Regions from separate parts of the Homo sapiens genome. Here region 1 is linked to region 2. Evidence: fine-mapped expression QTL. A gene starts in region 2. The other region holds a variant in brackets. All regions are shown on one strand. Distances are between the middles of the regions.

Evidence for each region. PIP is the estimated chance that this variant, and not a neighbour inherited with it, causes the effect.
Region 1: its variant is fine-mapped to the expression of LINC00539 in whole blood (TOPMed, PIP above 0.99).

The regions. Positions count from the first base shown.
Region 1 is chr13:21,324,252-21,327,157 of GRCh38, forward strand. All of the region lies in intron 2 of LINC00539 (long intergenic non-protein coding RNA 539), which reads right to left. It also overlaps the pseudogene MIPEPP3. Among named protein-coding and RNA genes, the nearest start is that of LINC00539, 19 kb to the right of the region's middle. The variant T/C (reference allele first, on the strand shown) is at 1,295.
Region 2 is chr13:21,343,437-21,346,342 of GRCh38, forward strand. It overlaps LINC00539 (long intergenic non-protein coding RNA 539), which reads right to left and starts at 1,423. Exons shown (of 3, transcript NR_103841.1): 1 at 1,230-1,423. It also overlaps the pseudogene MIPEPP3.

The DNA.
Region 1 (2,906 bases), 19 kb before region 2:
GACCAGGTGCTAGGTAACAAGAGATTGGCAGAGCCTTGCCCAGGGTCACAAATCAAGAGGAGAGATTCAAATGCAGATCCTAAAACTCCAGACCACCCCTCTTTTCTCTCTCCCTACCTGCTTGCTCAGTGCAGGAGACTGGGAGGGCCCTGAGCCAGGATGGGTTTAGACTCATGGAAGAAAATTCCATGGGGGAAAAATGTTTTTTCCATGAGAATCTGCTCTCATATAGCAGCCACACTTCTCCATACAGCCCAGAGACAGATCCTTCTAACATTCAAGCTAGTCTTAGGTCTTTGGGGGAGAGATTCAAAGATTCTGAATTAAAAAAAAAAATTAGACCCCCAGAACAGTAGAATACGATTCATGTCTGTTATGAATTACAGTTGGGTCTTTATCGTGCAGCAAGGGGTCCTCAATGGTGCCTACATCCTTTCTGAAATTGATCTTATTGGGATAACATGGCCAAAAAGGAAAACAAAAGCAAATAGTCATGCGTGTTTGGAAGATCTAGGACCGAGACATGCAAGTGTGATGGGAAGGTTCACTGCTCTTGGAAATTTAATTGCTGGATGGAAACAGACATAGAAATCTGGATTCCAACCAGACTTGAGCTCCATGCTAGCATATCAGACTGCCTGCTGGAATCCCTGTGTGGATGTCTCAAAGGCAGATAAAACTCAACATGCCTAAAAGCAAATGAATTGTTTCATGCTGCACCAGGCTCACCACCACAAAAGGGGAAATCAGCTGCATTCTCGACTTTAGTTGGTGACATCATCATCCCCCTAAGCCTCTCAAATGAGACACTTGGGATTTTCCCTCGGTTTTCCCTCTTCCTTATTCCTCCTGCCAATGTGCTGTTCAGTTCTCCTCTTCCCACCATCCACTGTCCCTTTGTATCTATCTTCTACCTATCTTTATACATCAACCCTTAACCGGACTCTCTGATTGCAATCTCACTCTCCTCTACCCATCACTGGTTTCAGAGAGATTTTTCTGAAATCCAAATTTGACCTTGGCACTCCTTGCTTACCACCTTCAATCACCCACCAGCATTGATGTGAAGGTTTTTTTTATGTGATTAACATTTAAATCAGTAAACTTTGAGTAAAGCAAATGACCCTTCATAATGTGGGTGGGCCTCATTCAATCAGTAAAAGGCTTTAAGAGAAAAGACTGAGGTCCCCTGAAGAAGTGGGAATTCTGCCTCCAAATTGCCTTCAGACTTGAGCTGCAACATCAGCTCTTCTGTGGGTCTGCAGATTTTGAACTTGCCAGCCCCACAATCACA[T/C]GATCCACTTTCTTAACTCTCTCTCTCTCTGTGTATCTGTGTGTGTGTGTATGTGTATACATAGCATATACATAACATATACATACATAAACATATGTATTTCCTGTTGGTCCTGCTTCTTTGACTAGCCTTGACTAACAGAACCATCAGACCCAGGCTACTCCATCCTGTGGCTCCACAATCCATAATATGTTAACTCTGGGTCAGAGCTGGCTGCTTGGGCACCAGACATGGTAGCTCCATTCCAGACAGCTGGAGAGAGGAAGGGACCTAAAAAGACATATTCCCTTATTTTAGGGACACTTCCTGGAAGTAGAACATGACCATCCCATTGGCCAGAACTTAGTCACATCTAGTTGCAAGGGAATTGGGAACATAGTCATGATTCCAGAACCATGCGCCCAGCTAAAAATCAGGAGGTTTTATATCATGGTAGAAAGGGGGAACAGACATGGCGCTACAGCAGGAGACAGTATCTGCTACAAATACCAAACGAAGGGCGCTGGCAATGAGCATTTTAGAGGTTAAGGGGAGATTTAATGCGGGCAGGGTCCGGCAGAGAGGGGCTGCACAGTGCAAGGGGACCGGGGCTGACTTTGAAGGAAGGGCTACTCCGCCCAATTACGAGAACACGTGAGCACCCTTGCCCCAGAGTGAGCATCAACACCGTGATCACGGTTATCACGTGGGAGGTCTGCCCAGGATCCCGGCAGTGAGGCTGCCCTGGAGGCAGGCTTGCTCCGCCACAGGCGCGCAGGCAACAGCAGCGGAGCCGAGAATGGCGAGGCCAGCGGGCGACCAGGCCTCCGGCCAAGGGCACGCGACCCCCCGCGCTTCCCGAGTGCTCCCCTGAAGCCTGGTACGCGTGGGCACCGGCGCACGGCGGTGCCCCGGAAACGCAGCCATCGCCTCAGGGCAGCCACTCACCGATGCGGTAATGCCCCAACGGGGCGTTTCATTGGCCAGCTCTCTTTCAGGCTCCAACTATTTCTTAGATTTTTTTTAAGGAATTGCAAATAGGCCTAAACAAAATCCAGATGCGAGGGAAGGGATGCCTGAACACAGATGGGTGGGAGAACACGCCCCGAGGTGCTGCTTTGGCAGAGAAGCCCTGTCTGCGAGCCCCGAGGCGGAGATGGCTCCCCAAGCCTGATGCAGACAAGAGAGCCCGCCCCTCCCCTGTCCCGCACCTGCTGAACTTTGGGGTCAGCAGAGGAATGTCCCCCGCTGTTAATGTTTTGTTTTTACTGTTTTACAATTCACATTTCGTGCTGCAGGGTGTACCGTGAAGCTACAACAGGGACAGACAGGTTTGTAGGAAGCGGCATTTCCCAAAAGCAACCTCTGAACCTTTTATTCCCGGAGCACATCACAGGTCCAGCGTTCCATAGAACACACCCTAGAAAAACGCTCCTGTGGAGGATCCGTCCCGCCAGGATCCCCAGCTGGTCAGGAATGCTGGGAGGGCCTCCTCACTCGGGCTATTCTCCCTCCCACACATTCATCTGAGGGGACAGGCTCTGGTTAGTTAGAAAATTGTAACATAGCAAGGTAGGAGCAGCAGCCCCTTGTCACCTTAGGCTCCAACTGAGGGTGGGAGGTGGGAGGTGGG
Region 2 (2,906 bases):
AGGCCCTCAGAGGCTCCATAATGTCCCCTAAAGCCACACAATCTTGGCCCAAGATTTGCTTGGCCCAGGGGCCTGGACGCTTGATCTCATAGATGGTCTGTCCATGTAGCTTGCAACACTCAAGAAGTCCCTCTCCAGTGAGGGAGCTCTGAACCCTGGCAGTGAGGCCTCTCAGTGAGGGGGCTTCTGAGCCCTGGCAGTGAGAAGCTCTCTGTGACCAGGGGACCCACCCTGCAACCTCCCCACCATTCCATAGCTGCCAGCACCTGTGCCCACTTCGAAGCTTAACCCTGAATGATAAGAGAGACCAGGAGCCAACAGCTTTACGTACGTTACTAATGAGCCTCAGAACAAACTCACAAAAAAATCTTATTCCTACTTCACAAACAAGAAGTTGAGGATCAGAGAGGTTAACTCAAATGACAAAGTCACACAGCTTTTAAGTCCCCTGCTCTTGGCACCAGACTCAGCAGCTTTGATGTGTTTGTTCTCTTCCTCCCTGTTTTTATTGAGGGCTTCTGAGGTGCCCTCCTTCTCCATCTCCTCCCTTCTCCTTCTTCTCCTCCTCCCCCTCCCCCCCGCCTCCTCCTCCTCTTCCTTCTTCTTCTCCTCTCCCTCTCCTCCTCCTTCTCCTTCTCCTCCTTCTCCTTCTCCTTTCTCTTTTTTAAATTTAAGAGATGGGGTCCCACTCTGTCACCCAAGCTGGAGTGCAATGGAATGATCACAGCTCACTGCAGCCTCAACCTCCCAGGCTCAAGCAGTCCTCCCACCTCAGCCTCCAGAGTAGCTGGGAATATAGGCACACCTCACTACACCTAGCTAATTTTTAAATTTTTTTGTAGAGACAGGGTCTTTCTGTGTTGCCCAAGCTGGTCTTGAACTCCTGGGTTCAAGTGATCTGCTCCCCCTCAGCCTCCCAAAGTGCTAGGATTACAGGACTGAGCCACCATGCCCGGCCAAGTCACCCTTCTTGAACTTTGATTCACCAAGCTCTTCAGTCCAATTTTACACAAGTGTGAACTCAGGTGTGTGCTTGTGATTCTTTGTTCACACACAGCCAAGTTGGCACAAGAAGGTGAAACAGAGAAAGGCCTCAGTGTTTTTGGCCAAGCCCACAGAAGGCCACCTAAGCAGGCTGGATGCTGCCCAGGGCTGGGCCACAGCGTGTCCTTTGTAAGTCAGCCATCCCAGCCCCCGAACCCCACACACACACAAAGACACACACTTACCCCAGGAGCAGCCCCACAGTGCAAAGGAGCCCACACAGCGGCTAATGGCTGCTCAGGTTTGTGTGATCTGTCTGGGTTCAGGCACAACCTCCAGGGGCCTCTGGCCCAGGTTGCATCTTTCCTGCAGAGCAGAAAAAGCACAGTTAAGAAAACCCCAAGAAGGCAGTCAGTTTCCTCCCTTGAGTTTCTGGGGTGGACTTCCGGCAGAGTTTTTGGAGGACTGACTGTTGCAGTTAAACAATGTGTCTGGCAAGAAGCGAGACTTCCTCCCTTCCTGCTGCCTGGCTCATGGGGCTGCAGCCTCCTTCTGGAGGTGGCAAGAAAGAACTGTGGAGTCCGCGATCTAAGGGATCCCTGGCAGCCCACGGCAGCCAGAGAACCACATCCGCTGGAGAACTCTAGGTTCTCTACGGCCTCTTGTTACTGCCAGTGCTTGTGTGGCTTGAGGTGGGTAATGCGGCAGCCTCCTGCAGCTAGCCCAGGACTGGGCAGCATGGGGCCAGGTAGTTAGTGTAGGAGAGTGAGCCCAAGCTTGGAAAGCAAGACTTGGCTCTGTCACTGGGCAACCGGGCAACCTTTTTTTGGTTTGGTTTTGTTTTGTTGTTTTTGAGACAGAGTCTTGCTCTATTGCCCAGGCTGGAGTGCAGTGGCATGCTCAAGTCCTGCCTCCCTGGTTCAAGCGATTCTCCTGCCTCAGCCTCCTGAGTAGCTGGGACTACGGGCATGTGCCACCACGCCTGGCTGATTTTTATATTTTTTATTGACGGGGTTTTGTCATGTTGGCCAGGCTGTCCTCAAACTCCTCCCCTCAAGTAATCTGCCCTCCTCGGCCTCCCAAGTGCTGGGATTACAGGCATGAGCCACTGCGCCCAGCCTGGGCAACCTTGAAGAAGTTACTTAGCTTCTCTGAGCCTCAGTTTCCTCATCTGTATAATGGAAGCAATAGTGTCCGTTTTGCAGGGCTAGTATGCCTGGTAAATGAGAATCCTCATAAGAGCCTAGAAATAATAGTGTCATAATGCAGGTGGTTCTACTATTACCAGTGACTAGTATTTGTTGAACACTGACCATAGACTAAGTTTTGTACTGAGCGTTTTATATTTATTGTCCCATTTAGTCCTCCAAAAAATCTAATGAGATATGACCATCCCCAGCTTACAAATAAGAAAACTGAAACTCAAAAAGACCAGCAAGTGACCCCAGAGAACTGCACAAGGATCTGCAGAGAGTGAGCAACAGGAGCCGAAGCCGTGGGCTCATACCAGGCTCTCTTCCTGCCTCTTAAGCCCATGGCACATTTGGAGGGTGCTACCTGAATTGAATGGGTGTGCCTGTTGTTTTGAAGTTGGGGTCTACGGCCATACCACCCTGAACGTGCCGGATCTCGTCTGAAGTTGAGGATAGGCATCATCTTTCACTTCAAAATGAAGAAACGGAGGCATTGGGAGGTTAAGTCACACATAGCCAGCAAGTGGCAGAGAGTGAAAGGAACCAGCATTGATGAGCGCCTACTGTATGCCAAACACTGTGCTTACTTCAAGATCCTGTGATCTGCTGGGTGGTTTTGGAGATGTTGGAGTTTCATTGACTTCCTACACTGCCCTGAAGAGGTCTTATTAGTATTAGCCCCATTTTACAGAGAAGGGAACTGAAGCTCCGTGCATGTAATTAGACTCC